Linked DNA regions of Homo sapiens: all the other regions are reported to be linked to region 1. The links are microRNA targets in miRTarBase. Many come from high-throughput screens and were not tested one by one. Region 1 holds a microRNA gene; each other region holds the end of a gene's coding sequence.

Region 1 (7,119 bases):
GAATGGCATTGGTGGTTAGCTGTAAGAGCCATATCTTTGTGAGGGGCCAGGAGTAAAGACAGCAGGGAATAAGCTCCTTTCATGCTGAGGAGCACATTCCTTGGGAGCAGGGGGACGACATCCTCAGTTCTCGGGCTGCAAGCTGGTTGGTCTGGGCTGTAGCTTTTAGCCGTGTGCCTACACCTTCAGGCCCTAATGGGCAGCCCTGGGCCCCAGCAGACAGTCACCCAGACTACCCAGGTACTGGATATGGATAGCTATTCATCCCTCAAACTCTCCGGGCAGTTGCTGTTCGGGTGGATGATTAGGAAGAGAAGGAGAACAAGGATTCCCATCTGGTGGTGGAAGGGACCCCTGGCTTTGTCATCAGCTCATTGGACATACCTCTGGCTCCCAAGAATTCCTGCACTGTTCCTTTTCTCGAGGCCCATGTGGACCCTGCTCCCTCATTAGGTTCTGGGGTACATGCCAGTTGGAACTGTTCACTGTGCCAGTGGAAGATTTAGCTGCTGGTTCCCCAGCGCAGGGTTCCAGTCAGAAGATCTGGGTCCCAGTGCCAGCTGCATGACCTTTGGCAGGTCCCTTAATAAGCCAGCATCTAGTTTGCCTGTACATAAATGGACAGTAATAAGATCTCCCCATCCTAATGCCATACGGATTAGGAATCAACACTTGTGATTTTTGTTATTACAGAGCATGCTCGTTATTATTGCTAGAGGATGACTGTGGATCAGCCTTAAGGAACAGGGAGGTTGTGGCTGTGGCCCTGCAACTTCCCTGGACAGAGAAGCATTCAGACTCTGGAGAGGGGTCTCTGGCATGTCAGCTATACAAACCTCCCCTACAAACCCACTCAAAGATAGAGGGGAGGAGAAAGGCTTGCTCTGTACATCTGGAGCCAGGGCTGTTTTCTGTTCAAACTCAGAGGAAGGCATTGGAGCCCCCCCCCCCCCTCCGCCGCCCCCTTGACGTCATGTCACTCAGAAGTCACCCTCCTTGTTCTCCTCTAAGCTGTAGACTTTGGGAAGCCTCCAGGACCCTGGCTGCTCCTAATCCCTAGGCATGATGCCTGCAGCCTAGCCACATCCTTATGGGGACTTCCTGTCCTATCCCTGAGCCCTTCTTTGGTAACAGTATCACTCAGGCTGGGGGAAGGAGCTACAGTTTGTCCAAGCCAAGGACTTGAGGGTGGGGTGATGCTGGAGCATGTGAGCCATGCTGTTCATGCTCAGGAAGGTTGTGCAATTTCCACCTTAGGGGGACAGTGAGACCAACACCTGAAATCATTTGTGTCCAAAGCTATTTTTAAGGTACTTTATTCTTTGCAGGTCCCTTTCATGATTTTTGTTTTCTTTATAAGGGGACCTCTCATAATTAACCTCACAATAATCATGAAACATGTAGGACAACAGTTATTCCTATTTCAGATAAGCAAGCTGAGGCCTAAGGAGATTAAATTATGTGCCCAAGGTCATCCTGGCAAGCACTGGTAGACTCAGGCCTGATGCTCAGGCATCCCACCTCCTCTCCCAGTGCCCTCCATACTGAGTCCATGATCAGCCAACCAAGAATGGGAGTCAGGGATGGGAGAGGTCATCCTCAGAGCCATGTGCATTGGGCACCTCTGGCTCAGACAGCATGTGGACACTTTTAAGGGCATCATTTATGATGTCTGAAGACAAGAGAGGGTAAACAGGACCACCTAAATGTCTTCAACAAGCGCAAAGAGAAATTTTCAGGCTGTCAGATTAAAACAAGATAAATAAGGCCATTTTGTTATTAAAACAAAATAAAGGATGGCACATCAACAGGGTCACTGTGCGAGGCCTGCCTCGCAAAGCCTCTGGCTGGCTCCTGCTCCTGGGGCCTGACCTTTCAGAGCTGGCTGGTGGGCCTGTGTCCGGCACAGGCTCTCAGAGGCTGTTAGAGGCCTGGCTAATGGGAAGCGGTAAATCGGCATCCGCAGTCAGCACTTTCTGCAGCATCCCGAAGGAGCAGGCAGAGGCTTCTGGGGCATGTGTGGCGGCAGGTACAGGCTTTGGCAAGTCCAAGAGCTGCCAGAAACAGGCAAATTAGATGTTGCTTTGCCCTCTGCATGGGGGCTCAGGCTGGGATATGTAGGGGAAGAGAGGCGTGAAGGGAATCAGACATGCCCGTTCTGTGAGAGCAGGATCTTACTTACCTTCTATTCCCTCTCCCGAGACCACACACGCTGAGCCTCCATTCCAAAATGGCAGTCCCCACACCTGAGCTGGGCAAATCAATTCAAGAATAGATTTTTTGTTATCACTTAATGATTTGAGAATCTGTTTCAAGCTTCCACGAACCATCTTCACTTTCTTTAGGAAGGATGAGTGATTTGTGCCACAAACTAACCCCCAACCTCCTGTTGAAGTTATTTTCTTGACGTTCAGAACCAAGGAGCCTGTCTTTTGCTAAGAAACCTGCACACACTGAGTGATGGGCAGCTATGTGCTCGTCTGTCTCCCCGTGAAACCATGAGCAACTTACTCAACTTGATGATGATAACAACTAGTGTGTGCCAGATGCTTTAGATGCACTGTCTGTAAAGTAGGTAGCACCATTATTTTCCTCATATTAGAGATGAAACGGAGGCCTACAGCGGTCGGATAACATGCCCAGCATTACTCAGCTAAGTAGTGCCAGAGCCAGATTTAGAAAGCAGGTCAAACTAATTCCTGTGACTCCTTATGATGTTGTACTGCCTCATAAGGGTTGAATGAATGAATGTCCAAATGAATGAATGATCAGGAAGTATTCAGGATATTGCTTGAGTGTTTGCTTTCGTCCTTGCTGAGGAGACTTGGGAAACAAAAGGTTTAAATCAAATTGGAAATGACTAGTCTCCTTGCCTCCCAGCTGCCTGGTTCACTCAGCTGCTCAGGATGTGATAGTAATGAAACCAGGGTCTTGGGATCAGACCCAGGGGACCATCCCAGCACCAGAGGCAGTCCTCTGTCCTTTCAGCTACCTCACAGGTGACTGTTACCAGCTACCAGTCACAGCAGGGTCTTGATTAAAGAGTAGAGAAATGGCCAGAAGAATGCAAGTGGTAGATCAACAGAATCATTTTTAACTTACAGGGTGTTAGGATGGTGCGGGAAATCATCTAGCTCATTTGCTTCTTTTACAGATGGGGACGCTGAAGCCCAGAAAAGGGCAGTGCCACAACTAGTGAGGGACAGAACCAGGATTCAGACTCAGGTCCATGGGCCTGGATCACTGGCTAATTCTGTGGGTCAGGGCTGGAGGCACCCAGCACACCTAGTCTTCAAAGCAGCAGTCAGTGGTCACCTCCCCCTGTTTTTTCATCACTGCCTGCCCCTGCCCCCCAGCCAGGTTTGCTGAGGGTCCAGGTCTTCAGGCAGAGATGGCCACCTGCCCAGGAAAGGAAAGTGCACAGGGTGCAGGAAGAATCCATCCCTTGGCAGCACAGAGAGGAACTCACATCAGCCCAAGGGATGTCTACACAGTTGCCAGGAGCAGAGAGTCCAGCCTGTTTTCAGTGTCTATATGCAGTGATTAGCAAGCAAGAAAGAAGAGGGTCTCCCCAGAGACACCTGTCACAGATGGCAGGAGATGGGAGGGCTTGGCAGCCCAAGGGAAGGGGAAAGTATGGAGAAATTGAGATTTAGCCGGGATTCCCAACAACCCAGAATCCCTTTCTTCCACCCCTCAATACCCCCCTTACCCTAGCCCTGGTGCTGATGGCATGCATGGCCCTCCTGGCCCCTACCCACACACAGGCAAGGTATCTTCCTAGCCCCTGGCAGCTCTAGAAGAAATAAGATCCAAGTAGCGTCAAAGATGACAGATTGTGAGGGGGCCAGGGGCCCTCCCCTGACAGCAGGGCTCAGCTGGGAGGCCTCTGTGGAGCAGAACAGATGGGAGAAGTCTGAGAGGGATATCCTAGCAGCCTGGAGACCCTGTCTCTGTTGTGGCTTTTAGTTGGTTTCAGTCAATTCTTTTGTCATTGTTTTGTTTTATTGAGGCATTTCAGCATAGGGGCATGATCAAATGGTGCTGTGTCTGCTCACCCTAAAGGAGGTGGGGTTGGGGAAGAATGGGAGGGAACAGGTCTAGGCAACACCCCATTTTGCTTTGCCCTTGTTGGGATCTAAGGGGGGTATAGAGGGAGGACTGCAGAGGGAGACGAGTATATACCTCCGAGCATCCTGCCATCACTGCCTGCCTGGCTTACTCTAAAGCTGTAGTTTCTGTACCACTCCACACTTCCTGTCATGAGGACTCTGGGAATCCAGGGCGATGTCATGTGGTCCACCTCCCCCTTACATAGTCCTGTTGCAGCCTGGCCCTCCTTCTCTAAGCTTGCACTGGGACCAGGCTTCTACCCTCCCTGGAGACCTGCGTAGAGGAGGAGGCATCCTCATGTTTCTTGGGCTATGTGGACCCTTCACTGTTGTCCTGCCTGCCTGGCATGTCCTGTTCCAAGTCCTATAACTCACAGGGCTCCTGCCTGTCTGATCGATTGGCCCTGCTGCCTGATTCTCAGTATTTGTTGCCAGGTTCCTGCCTGCCTTTGAACTACTTGTTCATCTTTGTGTCCATCCCAAGTTCTACCGGCTTGGTTTCTGACCCTCTGCTTGTCTTGGGATAGTCACTCTTTCAAGCTGCAGGGCTTTAGCCAGATGCCCTTCCCCAGACCCCTGGATCCCCCCACTTCTCATTGACTCCCTGACTTGTGCTCCCCCTCTCTCTCTGGAGAGATAAATATGGAAGGAGCCACAGCTGGAAGAGCAAAGCTGTTCTCCACCCTTGGAGCAGAACCATTCACCCTTCTCTTGGGAGCCCATGAGTCACTCTGTCTTCCACGTTGCCTCCAAGCCTGGCTGGGCGTCTACTTTCATCTCATGAGTGGGTTTCCAAAAACCATGGATGATCTTTATAAAGAAAATTACTTGTGATCTAAAGGGGCAACTCAGCTAGAGTTCTGGATGTCTGGTGAGGAAGCTGGGAACAGTTAAAACCAGAGTACCAGCTGGGCGCACTCACGCCTGTAATCCCAGCACTTTGGGAGGCCAAGGCAGGCAGATCATGAGGTCAAGAAATCGAGACCATCCTGGCCAACATGGTGAAACCTCGTCTGTACTAAAAATACAAAAATTAGCTGGGTGTGGTGGCGTGCACCTGTAGTTCCAGCTACTTGGGAGGCTGAGGCAGGAGAATCTCTTGAACCCAGGAGGTGGAGGTTGCAGTGAGCAGAGATCACGCCACTGCACTCCAGCCTGGTGACAGAGCGAGATTCCATCAATAAATAAATAAATAAATAAATAAATAAATAAATAAATAAATCCAGAGTACCAAGAACTTCCCCTGAGCATGTGGGGTTTGGAATCCAGGGAGAGGGCACAGGTTAAAGGGGGATTGATTCAACAAGTGTCCGGGGCCAGTTCATCCACAGCAAGTCTGCAGCAGAGAGGGAGTATGAAAGAAGCTTAAGCACATGGTTGTCCTCTGGGCAAGCATCTTAAAGGCCTGGATATCAAGAGTAGATCCTAAAATACGGAAAAGAGAACAATTAATGGGGTGCAGACAGGGCCAAGGGAAGCTATGGTGGGCCTAGTTTCTCACGACAAGACCAGACAAATTCTTGACCTTTGGTCCTGCCGCATCCCGCCAGCGTGGAACTGAAAGGCCCGGGCAAGGTTAGCAGCTGCTCCCATCCCTATCCCTGACACCTGAGAACAACAACCACCACGGGCTTCTCTGCTGCAAAGCTCCCTGGGGTAACATCTCCAGCTGGATGGCTGAGCAGATGGCTTTAGCTAGAAGATTCCAGAGAGGGGAGGAGCTAGGAACACTGAAGGGCCCTTTATAGCCTCGGTGGACATCCTCCTCTCTGGCCAGTGCCTGGGCTGCTGGGATTCTAAAATGTCTTTGAGAAAATTTGTCTTTTCAGAACCTGTATCTGACAGAGACTCTAGATAATCTGGGTACCTGTGGGGTTGCGTAATCACAATTGAAAAGTCTTTCAGAGATGGGACTGTTGTATAATTAGGCTGAGAGTTGGGCCCGGGGTAAAGTTAAGTACTGGTATGGATTTAGTGCTAATGGGCTCATTCCTTCTACTGGGCCGTCAAAGTTGAACAGTAGGGGAGAGGTAGCATTTGTCTACATGATAAAGTTTTTGCGGAAACCCTATCTGTTGAACTTGAACCTTGGGATCTGTACATAGTTACTTTTTCATGAAGCAGCTAATTCTCTTTAGCCGAATGGTTGAACAGTTGAGTGGGTCTGGCACTTGAAGCAGAGACATTTGGGTACAGCTCCTACTGAGGAGTATTTGTGAACACCTGGAAGCTAAGATGGTTTCTTGTCCACTTACATCTGGCCATGGTTTCTGTGGCTGTATCAATGACTTCAGATTGAGGGATCCTAGGCCAACAATTGGACAAACTCACTGCTGAGCCAAGAAAAGCAGGATGCTTCTGGATCAGAACCCAGGAATGTTTAGGGCTTTATTCTAAGAGGGAGAGTCTTCCTTGGATGCTGGGAGGGTTTTTTCAAGATTTACCTTCAACATCTGGTGCTTCCTGAAACGTCTGGTCATCAGAATTAGAATCTAGAATTATACCCTAGTACTTAACGACTTTCCACTAAAAGGAAAATCTTGGAATGTTTTCATGCCATCCTCAAAAAGCAAAAACATTGAAGAAATGTTCTATCAGAAATGCCCCTGGTTAAACTGAAGCAGAGTAACCAGAGAGAAAGAAGTGGACGAGACAGTCAGATTGTCTTCATTGAGACATTTCAAAAGCACAGGCCAATTTACAGGGTAGCATTGAACTCTTGAGCTATTACAAGTCTACGTGCATTTGTTTCCAGTCTCAAGTGTTCAAATTCTTCTCTGATGCCATCCTCTATAACCCAGCACAGAACTGAGGTGAATCTCTCTGCAAGCTCCTTGGCAAAAATCAACTTCTATACCAGATTAAAACCCCAGTTCTGGGTCATACCATCCAACTTCTAAACATTTCTGATTTACCTCTATTATATATTTTAATTTTTTTTATTTTTTAAATATAGGTAGAGACAAGTTCTCACTGTGTTGCTCAGGCTAGTCTCAAACTCCTGGGC
Region 2 (7,119 bases), not on the chromosome of region 1:
TAGCTAGGACTATAGGCACATGCTACCACGCCTGGCTAAGTTTTTGTATTTTTAGTAGAGATGGGGTTTCACAGTGTTAGCCAGGATGGTCTCCATCTGACCTCATGATCCGCCCGTCTGAGCCTCCGAAAGTGTTGGGATTACAGGCGTGAGCTACTGCACCAGGCCAGTTCTGGTCATCTTACAAGCGTTGTTTTTCAACCTTCCTATCTCATTCTCTTCCTGCTAAATGTATATGTTTTGTTGATTAAAGGAAATAAGACTTATCTCCCAAATTTACTGTCAAGACATTTGCAAAGTAACTGCAGTAATAGAGTTTAACCTTGGAAAATGTTGGTTACTGAGAATTATTGATATCTTAACCAAATTAAGCTGTTTATTTCCTTGGTTTAATGAGAACGTCTCAATATGCTTAAGAATATTCTTTTCTGATTTCTTTCAAATTATAGGTATTTTTTTCTTTTCTTTTTTCTTTTTTTTTTTTTTGAGACGGAATTTCACCCTTGTTGCCCAGGCTGGAGTACAGTGGCGCGATCTCAGCTCACTGCAACCTCTGCCTCCCGGGTTCAAGCAATTCTCCTGCCTCAGCCTTCCGAGTAGCGGATTACGGGCATGCGCCACCACACCCGGCTAATTTTGTATTTTTAGAAATTACGGGGTTTTCTCCATGTTGGTCAGGCTGGTCTCGAACTCCCTACCTCAGGTGATCTGCCCGCCTCGGCCTCCCACAGTGCTGGGATTACAGGCGTGAGCCACCACACCCGACCTCTTTTTCTTTTTTAATAGAAACAGGGTCTCCCTATGTTGCCCAGGCTGGGCTTGAACTGCTGGGCTCAAGGGATCCTCCTGCCTTGGCCTCCCAAAGTGTTAGGATTACAGGCACAAGCCACTGTACCCAGCTGAAATTATAGGTCTTAAGGCAATTGAGAACTTTATTTCAGAAGCTTAAGTTCCTTAGCAGCAGGAAACCCCATAGTATTTATCAAATCATTTCTAAAAGTATTTAGACCCAAAATTATATGACATGTTAATCTCTGAAGTAATTTGTTGTTTTGTATAACTTTTCTGTAATATATTCCATATCTGACCCCTGTTGGTATAAAGAACAACTATGCAAATCTGTTTTTTCTTTTCTTTCCTCCTAGTCTCTGCTGGATGAACCGAATCCTAACAGTCCAGCCAATAGCCAGGCAGCACAGCTTTATCAGGAAAACAAACGAGAATATGAGAAAAGAGTTTCGGCCATTGTTGAACAAAGCTGGAATGATTCATAATAGACAACTGGTCTGTTAATCTTTTTCATCATTGTTGTGTATAATTTACCTCTCATTAGAAAGGCTAACAAATTTTAAGTGCCACAGGTTTTAAGGATTCTGCAGAAAAAAAAGAAAAAAGTCCTTCAGTTTAGAACCTACAAAAGCTTGTGTATCTTGATTAATGTACTTTTTATTGCATGGTGTGAACTAAGTTATTGCTGCATAAATTTGTAATATATCCTGTTTGTATTTTTTTCCAAGTGTATAATGTTGGTGTGGAGTTTTCATGACAGAATATACACATTTTGTAAATCTGTACTTTTTTCAAATATTGAATGCCTTATTTTTGAATTCTTTAGATTTTTAAATTGGAGAAAAGCACTTAAAGTTTTTTATATATGAATATTACATGTAAAGCTGTTAAAATACATAACTTCAGTGCAAGAGACTTTGTCACTTATTTCCTTATGTGTGTAGGAGGGGTTAATAAGTCTCTAGCTCTCCATCTATTGATAGTTTCATTTACAATTTCAAAAGAACATTCTTATATTTTATCAAGGAAGTCTTCAAATTTGATTCTAAATAGCGATTATAATCTCCAACTTTATTTTGAATGTACCTCTATTAGTTTCAATTGAGTAATTCTAGACATAACTGGTTTGACTCTGTCCAACTCTGTATTTAGGCCATTTGTTACAGTTTCTTCATGCATTACTTACTGTTAAAACTGTACCTTTTGCGATTTCACAGTTGGCACTTCTGCCATGAGCAGAGAACTGATGCGACTTGTTTTGCTGCTTGGTAGCACTTTAAAAAATTTTTTGATTAATGAAGAAAGTAAAACCATAAACATTTGCCAAAAATTCATGCCCCAGTATTAGCAATGAATTAGTTGCATTGGTTTGAGAAAGGCACATATTGGAGGGAAATCTTGGTGTAACTTAAATATTTGAAAATTACCTTTAATGCAATGCATATCTGTTTATTCTGGGAAATGTTTTAATGCCAGGGCCTGCTGAGTTGCTTCTTCTTGTGGAGATTTTTTTTTTAATCTCCTGAGTTGTATAAAAGTTGTACTGCATCTTAGTTTACTGGATAAATTTAAAACACAGTATTGTAGAAAGCTAATACAAAACTATCCTATGCCTTCAAATAGTATAGAAAATGGAAAATATACAAGTAAATTCTGTTGAACCACCTGTGTAGTCTCTCTAGTAGTTAAAACAGCTATTTTAGTAACCCCAAGAGTTTCTTCTCATATCCATAAAATTGGATTACAGTATGGCAATATCTACAGCTTCTATTCATTATGCAACGTTTAACATTGATTGGATAAATGCTTATAGGCTGGGCCAGGTGGCTCCCACCTGTAGTCCCAGCACTTTGGGAGGCAAAGGCGGGAGGATCACTTGAGGCCAGGACTTTGAGACCAGCCAGGGCAACATAATAAGACTTTTCTCTACTTTAAATTTTTTAAAAAATTAGTTGGGCATAGTGGCACTTGCCTGTAGTCTCAGCTACTTAGGAGGCTGAGGTGGCAGAATAGCTTATGCCTAGGAGGTTGAGGCTGCAGTGAGCTGTGATTATGCCATTGCACTCCAGCCTGGGTGACAGAGCAATACCCTGTCTTTAAAAATAAAAGCTATTACTTGGCAAATTCTGAGGTAAGTGTATGATCTTAGGGAACTTTGATACAAATGGGAATTCACTCACTGGAATCGTGGCTCCCAAAAAGATGCTTTAATTGTGTGGTGCTTTTATAGTTTAGCTCCAAAACAAACTATAGACATTCACTCCAGTAACTCCTAGATTAAATATACAGTAGCTATGAGGGTCTGCCCTCTTATTTCATTAAATGCTATTTGGTTACTATTTCAACATCCATTTTTATCCTTGACCTGTTTTTGCCTTTCCCAGTTTAAAACAGGAAAATTTCAAGTATTGGTAGATAATTATAAAGAAGTTACATGTTACTTTACAGGGAGGTCAGTGAGTTCTAACTCCAAAATTCAACATATGCATAAAACTCATAGCATCCACATTCCTTTTCGAGAAAATCCTTAAGAAGGTTCAATCTATACATAACTCCTCACTTTTTTCTGCAGCCTTGGAACAGATTCCTATTTCTTTGGTTAAGTACCAGATATAAACCTTCGATTTACAAGGTTGAGTCATACAAAAAGTGTTTACTTTAAACTCTAGGTCAGTTTCATAAATGTATGGTAGGGCAAGAAGCTAGAACTAAAATGTTTATGTTGGTACAAAGTTATATTGATGGATTCATGTTAAAAAGTTTAAATGCATGTGTGATACAATTCCCTGTAACAATACCCCAGCACAGAATAATCTGTGAAAGGCACTATTCTAAGCACTTTTAACATATATTATTTCATTTCAAATTCACAAATACGGTGGCTCATGCCTGTAATCCCAGCACTTTGGCAGGCTGAGGTGGGCGGATCACCTGAGTTCAGGAGTTCAAGACCAGCCTGGCCAACATGGTGAAACCCCCCGTCTCTACTAATAATACAAAAATTAGCCAGGCGTGGTGGCAGGTGCCTGTAATCCCAGCTACTCGGGAGGCTGAGGCAGGCGAACCACTTGAACCTGGGAGGCAGAGGTTGCAGTGAGCCGAGACCTCACCACTGCACTCCAGCCTAGGCAATAAGAGTGAGACTCTGGCTCAAAAAAAAAAAAAAAGATGATAATGAAACTAGCCACAGATAGACAGATGAAGTGACTTGCTCAAGATCAACCAGCCAGTAAGTCATAGAACTGGGATTTGAACCCTATGTGGTCTTACCCAGAAATGTGCTATCTTTTAAGAGGTTGAGATTGGTTTTAGAAATTCTGCAGAACTTCAACATCCAAATTTGTGGAAATACTTTTAACTGATTTAGTTTTATACAGACTTGTGTCTACTCCAATGAAAAGGTTTCCTTTTTTTTCCGAGACAAGGTCTTGCTCTGTTTCCCAGGCTGGAGTCCAGTGGCTCCAGGCGGCTCACTGCAGTCTCAACCTCCCAGGCTTAAGCGGTCCTACCACCTCAACCTCCTGAGTAGCTGAGACTACAGATGCATGCCACCATGCCTGGCTAATTTTTTTACTTTTGTAGAGACAATGTCTCACTATGTTGGCCAGGCTGGTCTCAAAGTCCTGAGCTCAACTGATCATCCTGCCTCGGCCTCCCAAAGCACTGGGATTACAGGCATGAGCCACTGCACTCAGCTGAAAGGGTTTTCTTGACTACCATTTTCCACTGACTTTAGGAACATTTTCTGGTTTCTATATAAAGGACTGACTTATCAATAAGCCACATTTTTCCCCTTCCTGGAAATATCCTTGAGTCTGTAGGATTTCTCTCCTCCACCCACCCCCCACACCAAGTTTCATTAATATGAATAACTTTCCATGTTTCTTGTGTTCACAGAATGGCCTGGGAATTTTTAGTTGAGCCAAAAAGATGAATGAGCTGTGCCCATTACAAACCTTGTTGGTTATCTGACTGCTCCACAGCTCTAAATTCACACTCATGTAGGTGGAAGATAGCGGAGAAGTAAGTTATTAAAGGTGTGGTATTATTAACAGTTTGTTTAATGCTCATTAAACAAAGTTAACTGCCTACTTAGTTTATTCATTTAGTATTCTTTAAGAGATAACCCTGAGGATCATATTACACTTCAGAGTTATGTCTAAGGTGTTTCATATTTCAATTCTCCCAGGTTTTAAGAGGTAGGGATCAAATTTTGGAGTCTTGATGGTGTTTATGACAGTTCTTTTCCATTGCATTCAACAATGTAGAGTCCAAGTGGAATCTGAGTTATGTGAGAATCATGTATTTAAACAGAAAAGTGAATAGTTGGAAAGCTGTTCGCGGTAAATGAAATTATCCATAGGACAGAGGCCTTATGCCAAGATGGTAGCTCTATTACTTTAGTTCCCATCTAGTTAGGGGGGAATGAACTGTTACCAGATGGGGGAAAGATTAGTTATCATCAGTCATTCTAGCATATGACAGCAAAGATATTAGAAACTAAATTTTATTGTTGAAAGGACTTTTTCTTTATCGTTTCAACAAAGAAGACACAATTAAATGTGTGCCATTCTTCCTTCAGTGAATTCTCCTCACCATCACTACAGCTTTTTTTAAAAACAATTTTGTCAGAAATATCTTGAGCTTTCAGGGCTTCTTGTGTTCACAGGATGGCCTAGGAATTTTTAGTTGAGCCAAAAAGATGAATGAGCTGTGCACATTACAAACCCTGTTGGTTATCTGACTGCTCCACAGCTCAACATTAGTTCCTTGATGGCTGAAATCAAGAACTTTGGAAGAACTTGGGCTCCAGAGTTCTCTTTGGCATATGTAAGATTCAGACTTGTGTGAGAAACTTGCATATGAAATCTTTTGGGAAGTAAATGCTAAAGCTTGGCCACATGTTGCTTTTGTTCATCAGTGACTTGTGGATTAATATATTTGAGAAGACTCTAATATATAATAGAGTGGGCTCTGCCTAGAGAAAGCAAAGCCAATTAGAGAAAGTCTTCATATAATAGTAACAGTCTTGGTTACAAGTATGATCCTTCTGTAGTCTTTTAGGGGAGGTTGGCTCCTCTGAAGTCTTACTTGGAAGACAGATTCATAAAGTGCCACTGGGCTGGGAACTCCTGTAAAGGGAATCAAAGCCTGTCTCTGAAAAGATCCCCTGGGGTTCCATCAACCTGAACAATTTAGTCATTCTTCTGGAATGCAAGAGTTGTTCTCTACTGTGTCTTTAAGACTGCCAAAATGCAAACATAAAAGCACTTGAGGCAGATCCCCTTAAGAGCAAAGGGGGCTGGGTGCGGTGGCTCATGCCTGTAATCCTAGCACTTTGGGAGGCCGAGGCGGGTGGATCACCAGAGGTCAGGAGTTGGAGACCAGCCTGGGCAACATGGCGAAACCCCATCCCTAGTAAAATAAAAAATTAGCCAGGCGTGGTGGCGGGCGCCTGTAATCCCAGCTACTCGGGAGGCTGAGGCAGGAGAATCGCTTGAACCCTGGAGGCGGAGGTTGCAGTGAGCTGAGATTGCACCACTGCACTCCAGCCTGGGTGACAGAGCAAGACTCCATCTCAAAAAGCAAAGGGTTGGTTATGCTGCTTTATTTCTGAAGCCCAAGGGATATATTGCCCTCTTCCTTTCCACCTTTACAAACAAGATCTTTTGCCAATACCATAACCCACGAGTACAGGAGTGCTGGACTAGCAGCACTCCTGAAAAAGAGAATATCAAACAGAAAGGTTTGAAGTTCTTTGGCTGGCCCCTGTATAAAGTCATTGTATAAGATTGAATTGGAAATGTTATGTTTTTGTGTTGATGTTAGTACAAAGAAAACAACGGGAAGTTGCTTAGCTGTTAACCTCATTTTAAATCTAAGGGATATTTTCCCTTCCTATAGAAAAAGATGCTTTTGCTTGGCCTAATGACCATACTGGGCAGAGATCAGGGTGAAATCCAGAGACTTCAGCCCATGTTACTAGTTTCAGCTACAGGTGAGAAGTAGCACTGCAAAGAAAAGCTAAACTGGTAACCTTGCTGTGTAGCAGAGATCTTTGGTCATAGGAGTATTCCTGCATGGGCCATAAGGTTGTGGTTTGAGGTGGAAACTCCCTGAAACATCAGCTGGAAAGTCGCCTTTAGAATAAAGACAAAGAACCTTCTGCAAGCCAGCCAAGGCAATACCAGGACTTGGAGGTGGCAAGTTTGATAAACTAATCTGTAGGAAAAAGTTCCTATCTTAGTGCTTACACAGTTCTTTTTTCTTTTTTTGGTATAGACGGGGTCTTGCTACATTAATTCTTTGACTGGGGCTGGGTCTTCTTTT
Region 3 (7,119 bases), not on the chromosome of region 1:
CTGGTCCGTAGGGCATCTTCATCTTCAACGTTGTGTACTACGAGCCGCTGGTCTACAACAACACCTACGTGTACCCGTGGTGGGGTGAGGCCATGGGCTGGGCCTTCGCCCTGTCCTCCATGCTGTGCGTGCCGCTGCACCTCCTGGGCTGCCTCCTCAGGGCCAAGGGCACCATGGCTGAGGTAAGGCTCCCGCCCGGCCCGCCCTCCCCTCCCCTGCTGTGAACATTCAACCCAGCCTGCTTCCTAGCCAGGGAGTGGCCCCGACTAGGGTGGCAGGCAGTGGGAACCGGAGAGAGGCAGAGGAAGTCACCGTGGGGACGAGCAGGTGACCCTGGGGGCTTCAGCATGTCCTCCTCTCCTGCAGCGCTGGCAGCACCTGACCCAGCCCATCTGGGGCCTCCACCACTTGGAGTACCGAGCTCAGGACGCAGATGTCAGGGGCCTGACCACCCTGACCCCAGTGTCCGAGAGCAGCAAGGTCGTCGTGGTGGAGAGTGTCATGTGACAACTCAGCTCACATCACCAGCTCACCTCTGGTAGCCATAGCAGCCCCTGCTTCAGCCCCACCGCACCCCTCCAGGGGGCCTGCCTTTCCCTGACACTTTTGGGGTCTGCCTGGGGGAGGAGGGGAGAAAGCACCATGAGTGCTCACTAAAACAACTTTTTCCATTTTTAATAAAACGCCAAAAATATCACAACCCACCAAAAATAGATGCCTCTCCCCCTCCAGCCCTAGCCGAGCTGGTCCTAGGCCCCGCCTAGTGCCCCACCCCCACCCACAGTGCTGCACTCCTCCTGCCCCTGCCACGCCCACCCCCTGCCCACCTCTCCAGGCTCTGCTCTGCAGCACACCCGTGGGTGACCCCTCACCCCAGAAGCAGCAGTGGCAGCTTGGGAAATGTGAGGAAGGGAAGGAGGGAGAGACGGGAGGGAGGAGAGAGAGGAGAAGGGAGGCAGGGGAGGGGCAGCAGAACCAAGGCAAATATTTCAGCTGGGCTATACCCCTCTCCCCATCCCTGTTATAGAAGCTTAGAGAGCCAGCCAGCAATGGAACCTTCTGGTTCCTGCGCCAATCGCCACCAGTATCAATTGTGTGAGCTTGGGTGCGAGTGCACGCGTGCGTGAGTACGGAGAGTATATATAGATCTCTATCTCTTAGCAAAGGTGAATGCCAGATGTAAATGGCGCCTCTGGGCAAAGGAGGCTTGTATTTTGCACATTTTATAAAAACTTGAGAGAATGAGATTTCTGCTTGTATATTTCTAAAAAGAGGAAGGAGCCCAAACCATCCTCTCCTTACCACTCCCATCCCTGTGAGCCCTACCTTACCCCTCTGCCCCTAGCCAAGGAGTGTGAATTTATAGATCTAACTTTCATAGGCAAAACAAAAGCTTCGAGCTGTTGCGTGTGTGAGTCTGTTGTGTGGATGTGCGTGTGTGGTCCCCAGCCCCAGACTGGATTGGAAAAGTGCATGGTGGGGGCCTCGGGGCTGTCCCCACGCTGTCCCTTTGCCACAAGTCTGTGGGGCAAGAGGCTGCAATATTCCGTCCTGGGTGTCTGGGCTGCTAACCTGGCCTGCTCAGGCTTCCCACCCTGTGCGGGGCACACCCCCAGGAAGGGACCCTGGACACGGCTCCCACGTCCAGGCTTAAGGTGGATGCACTTCCCGCACCTCCAGTCTTCTGTGTAGCAGCTTTAACCCACGTTTGTCTGTCACGTCCAGTCCCGAGACGGCTGAGTGACCCCAAGAAAGGCTTCCCCGACACCCAGACAGAGGCTGCAGGGCTGGGGCTGGGTGAGGGTGGCGGGCCTGCGGGGACATTCTACTGTGCTAAAAAGCCACTGCAGACATAGCAATAAAAACATGTCATTTTCCAAAGCAGGCTCCTGCTTCCGCCTCTGCTGCTCTAAGGAAGGGGTCGGGGTACAGGAGGCAGGGGGAACCTCCTCCAGCTGGAGCTGCTGCCGTGAGCAAGGCTCTGCTCTGGAGGCCTCTGCGGCCGGCACCCTTCTGGGGACTGGGAAGGGGGCAGGGAAGGCAGCAGCCCAGGGGAAGGCCTTGTCCCCCTGGAGCCGAGGCAGTTGGGGAGAGCAGGACGAGAGTGAGCTGGAGAGCAGCCACACCCGCGGGGAAGGGTGGGCGTAAAGCCATGGGTGCTGAAATTTTCAAAATGTTACCCCAAGAATTTGTCACTGAACAGGTGCCTTGTGTCACTTGGGCCAGGCTGGTAGCAGCAGAGGGGATAACTCTGCATCAGGGATCAATTTTGAAGGTGGAGCCAATAGGGGTTGTGCATGACCAGGATGCAGGGCTCAAAGAGGAGTTAAGGACAACAGATTTGGCCTGAGCAAGAGGAAAGATGGAGCTGCCAGGTCCTGCAATGGGGAGGCAAGGAGAGAATGGTCTGGAGTCAGCCTTGGGTGTGTCATGCAGGAAGTGTCATCCAAGTGGAGATGTCTAGTTGGCAGGTGGACACAGGAGTTCCAGAAAGTACTGGAGATGGAACTGTGCAAGTTCTTACCACATAGAGATGACACTGAAAGCCCTGAGCCTGAGTGAGCTCACAGGGACGCCGCAAGCCCCGGAACACAATGAGAGGGGCAGAGCGAAGACGTGGCAGTGATAGGGGAGGACGCCTGAGAGTTCCTGGTGGGGTCCTGCAACCTGAGCCAGTGAGGACCCCTCACAGGTCAGGGAGGAGCAGTGGCTGGCTCCATCTGTCCAGTGCTGCTGCTGGTGAAGGACAGTGACCTGCAAATGCTCACTGAGTCTGGCAAGGGTCACGGGGGCCTGGCGAGGGTGGCTTGCATGAGCGGGTGCGTGTGAAAGGCTGGGTGGTGTGCGACTGAGAAAAGGAGTGGCGGCAGCGCAGTGTCATCTGCAGACGAAGGGAGAGACAACAACGTAGTTCACCCAGACAAGGAAATATGAGCCAGCCTGGAAAGGGAAGGCATTCCAACACACGACACAACATGGCTGACCCTGGAGGGCATTTCTGTGAAATGAGCCATCATAAAGGGATACTTGCTATAGGGTTCTGCTCCTGTGAGAGAGACAGGGCCTTACATGAGAGGAGGGAGATCCACAGAGACAGAGGGCAAGGGTGGGTGCCAGGGGCTGGGGACAGGGTGGGGAGTGTTGAGTGGGGACAGAGTGTCAGTTTGAGAAAATAAATTCTAGAGGTGGATGGAAGTGGTGGCTGCGCAACACTGTGACTGCACTTAATGCCACTGAATTGCACATTTAACGATGGTGAAAATGGCTCATTACATATACACTGATGACACTATATATATGTATGATATATATGCGTTTTACCATGAGAAGAGGTGGAGAGGAATTGGAGACACTGAGTACAGACAGGTCCTTCAACGGGCGGGACCCCGTGCACAAGATGAGCATGTGGCACCCCACCCTCAAAGGGCTGGGCACCATGGCAGGGCACAGCAGGCAATGCAGTGGGCGGCTCAGGCAAGCACAGAGAGCATCAGAGATTGGAGCCTGTGAAGGGGGAGCAGGTGACCCCTCAGAGCAAAGTGACAGCTTGGGCTGCTCCCTTTGCGTCCTGCCCAGGACTGCTATCGTGCTATGGGAGAACCCCCAGAGGCCCTGCTCCTCAGCAGGCAGCACCCCCTATGGAGGGGCTTTACCCCTAAACTTCTGGAGCCAGGGGAGGGACCTGGCTTGGAATACGGCCAACCAAGAGCCTGGGTGAGAAATACACGGACCAGACAGGGAGCAGAGAAAGGAGTGGCAGTGCAGTCCCACCCTAGCTCAGCCAGGGGCTCTGGAGCCTGTCCTGCAGTCCCTGGCCCCCATCTCTTCAGCAACCGCTGTTTCCAGTTTTCTTTTTCTCCCTGAGAAGCCTGTCCTCTCACCATGCCTGCGCCTTCAAGAACCCCGCCTGCTGGCAGCTCCCACATCTCCGGCCTGGCCCTCCTTAGCTGCAAAGGTGCTTCCCAACATCAGCAAGACCTCTCCCCAGGGTGCCCCAGGCCCTCACACAGCCCCTGTCCCCAACCGACTCCAACTGTCCTGCAGCCCACAGTCACCCTCAGGACCCCTGAGCTCAGGCCAACTGCTTTATACACTGTCAGCCAAGTCTCTGCCTGGATGACAATCACCCTCTGCTAATTGTTCTCCGCACCTCCAGGCCAAATGCCCTCCAAGCCACCTCATGCACCACGATGACACTAAACACACAGAAAAAAGACATTGAAAAAAGGAAACTTCACAGAGGCCTGTCACTTAAAGAGGGTCCTGAAATAGAGACACCATTTCCTCAGGACTTAGCTCCTGCATCAGGGGTTAGGACACAGAGATCAACAAGCAGCAGGCTTTGCCCTCAAGCAGCTCGCAGTCTAGTGGAAGATGGGTAAGAAAACAGATCAGGACGCCCACGGGTGCAGATGCCCTGGAACAGAAGCTGATCCAGGAAGGCGCGAGCCTGCAGGCCGCCCTCCAGTCTAGGCTGGGCAAGCACCTCAATTTTCATCTCTAAGAGCCTGTGCCCACACCCCCTGCCCCGTTGTTGTTCCATCACTCCACTAGAAAGGGCGCTCCAGAAGCTGGCCTCGTGCAGCTTTCTGTCTGCTGCTGGCCTAGGCAGAACAGCGGAAGAAGCCATCAGGGCTGGTGAGGGAAGCACCCGTTTGGACTTTAGCCTTTCAAAGCTCAGAGAAGGGTGAGCTCAGGGAGGTCCAAGGTAGCTGAGAGCACTTCCTGGAAAAGTGGGATCAGCCTTCGGCCTTGGCACAGCAACCAGAGGGTATCGCCCACGTGTCCCCTACTCCCTCAGACACCACCTCTCAGACCGCCTGGAAAGGGACAGAACTCGTCATGAGGCGGCTGTGCTCTGAGCACAAGGGAAGGGCGACAGGATGCTAGAGAAGGGAACCACTGGCCTGGGCCCGGACAGGGCAGGCAGAAGCGAGCATGCACAGCAGGCCGTCAGCTACCCTGCCAGCATCAACATCCTTCAGGGGTCCCCCCAGTTCCAGGAGACACACCTCTAACCTGCTCCCCTGACCCTTCCGCCCAGTCCTCATGCAGACACCAGGCATGGCAGAGGCCCTGCAGGGTGGAAGCACTGTGCTGCGGGCGGGGGCTGCCTTCCTCATGTGCTACTGGAGAGTAGCACAGTGCAGGGGCCTGGGCACTGGTGCCAGGCAGGAAGCCCCGGTACTGGCCTGGCTTGCTGTGGGCCTGGAAGACACAGCTCTGAGGGAGCCACGGGAGGGACACCCTGGAGCCAGCACAGCGCTCTGGTGGCAGGCACACACCCAGCACGTTCTCAGGGCCAAGGGCCCCAGCCCATTCCCAGCCCCTTTCTGCCTAGCTCTGCCCTGGGCCAGCTCCAGGTCACTGCCAAGGACAAGTCTCCTCTCCCAGCTGGCATTAGTCAGAGGTCATCCTGCAAACCTTCGGGGGGGGGGGCAGGGAGTGACTAGTGGCGTTCTGCCACGTTCTGTCTGTCCCAAATGTGACGAACAGGAACCCAGAGAAGGCAAGCGAGTCCTCTACCCGGAAGCCCCGCCGGTTTACTGAGCCTCCCAAGCTGCCCACACCCAGGGAGGCAGACAGGACACACACTCGGCGGGTGGCCCTGAAGCGAGGCCTGGCCCAGCCCGGGGAGCAGGAGGACAGAGAGGGCAAGGCCTTCGAGAACAGGTGTGAGCCTGGCCTTCAGTGGGGGAAACAGGTTGAAGGGCTGTGGCCGCTTGGGGGCTCCAGGCAGGAGAGAAAGCAGAGCCCTCCCCACAGCTGCAGTCACACACCGCACCACGTACACACCATGACAACTTTTATTGCCCTCAAGAGAAACTCCAGTCCACCTGCTCCACCCACCCTCCTGCGGGACCAAAGAAAACACCCAGAGGGCAAAACAAAAAGGGGCTCAAACCAACAGGAAGTCAGCCCCACCGCAAGCCGGACTACAACTAACTCGTGCTCTCCACGCTCAGGCGTGGAAGCCAAGGCTGTGCCAGGCCTGGCCAGGCCAAGCAGGATGACAGCAAACGCATTCTGAACGTGTAGCAATCAGGTCCCCTGTAATGTGCTTGGAGAGTGTGGACAAGGGCCGAGATGACGAGCTATGAGCTGTGGAAGGGAATGGGGGAAGCAGAAGGGCACAAACAGAAGTACTGGAGGGAGAGGCCGGGCTCTCAGGAAGCAGCAGGCACGTGCCAGGTGGAAGCCAGCTGCAGGCAGGGGAGGAAGGAGGCCCTTACTCTTCCTTCTTGTCCATGGGACCATCTACTGCAGCCTGGAAAGGGACAGAAATCCCACAGCAGTAGGTTGGCCGGGTCCACTCCTCCCCTGCCACCTCCAGCCCCATGCCCCAGAGGTCCACCTCGGTTCCCCTCTCTCCTAACAACAGCTATTCAAGTGAACAAGGGGCCCCCTCCCCAGCTGCACCCAAAGGCCTGCCAGGGTGGGAGCGTCAGCCCTGGCCCACGCTCTAGGGAAAGCCCTGGACCTAACGCCAGCCAGGGAGGACTGCCAGGACCTCACTGGGGGCTGAGTCCTGGCTGCAGGGAACAGCAAGGCATCCAGTCCCCTTCAAGACCTGATCAGACCCTTCCCAACTCTGCACACCTTTGACAGGTGCCCTCGAAGCCCATCTGCCAAGCCTGCCCCATACAGAGGGCATGGGTGCCCCCTTTGAGGCTGGACCCTTCCTCCCCACCTGCTGTGGTGCCCAAACTTGGGCCACCAAGCACTGAGGCCAGCTGTCCAAAGTTAGGAGTATTTATGTGGCCCTCACTCCCAACGTCAAGACCGCCTGGGCTTCCAGATGCGGCCTGGTGCACCCAAGCTAGTCTGAGGACTCAGATCAGGCCTAGGGCAGCAGGTGATGGCCACAACTAGCGCCTGCTAGGGAAGGTGCCTTTTTGACACCTTGTGCCCTCACTTGCCCAGGGATCTTTGCCCTACGTCACTCCCCAGCACCCTAGGAAAGAAGGCCAGCAGTGGGTCCCAGAGTTTCACCTGCTTCTTTGTTCTTGACCAGGCCCCAAACCATGGCTGCGCCTGAGCACGAAGGTAGGAAGGCTCAGAGCCTAGTGAGCCAGTGCCACTCCTGAGGGCCGCCTTGGCAAGTGCCTACATCTGCTG

What was found. The annotated mature microRNA hsa-miR-921 reads CUAGUGAGGGACAGAACCAGGAUUC and lies in region 1 at 3,193-3,217, shown strand. An mRNA with a match to its seed (bases 2 to 7 or 8) in the 3' UTR can be bound and repressed. Matches are read on the target gene's strand: a 7mer-m8 pairs with bases 2 to 8, a 7mer-A1 pairs with bases 2 to 7 and ends in A, and an 8mer does both.
Region 2: miRTarBase lists UBE2B as a target of hsa-miR-921. The part of its 3' UTR that is shown has no 7-base or 8-base seed match.
Region 3: the mRNA of SLC6A8 is a reported target of hsa-miR-921. Seed matches in the 3' UTR shown: 8mer at 650-657.

What each region holds. Positions count from the first base shown.
Region 1 is chr1:166,150,871-166,157,989 of GRCh38, reverse strand. MIR921 (microRNA 921) reads left to right here and starts at 3,192; the gene lies at 3,192-3,247. The region is part of intron 1 of FAM78B (family with sequence similarity 78 member B); the gene reads left to right.
Region 2 is chr5:134,389,080-134,396,198 of GRCh38, forward strand. It overlaps UBE2B (ubiquitin conjugating enzyme E2 B), which reads left to right. Exons shown (of 6, transcript NM_003337.4): 6 at 1,146-3,029. The coding sequence ends at 1,274. Among named protein-coding and RNA genes, the nearest start is that of CDKN2AIPNL, 19 kb to the right of the region's middle.
Region 3 is chrX:153,694,708-153,701,826 of GRCh38, forward strand. SLC6A8 (solute carrier family 6 member 8) reads left to right here. Exons shown (of 13, transcript NM_005629.4): 12 at 12-182; 13 at 367-1,881. The coding sequence ends at 507. BCAP31 (B cell receptor associated protein 31) reads right to left here. Exons shown (of 8, transcript NM_001256447.2): 8 at 5,785-6,268. The coding sequence ends at 6,230. Among named protein-coding and RNA genes, the nearest start is that of SLC6A8, 10 kb to the left of the region's middle.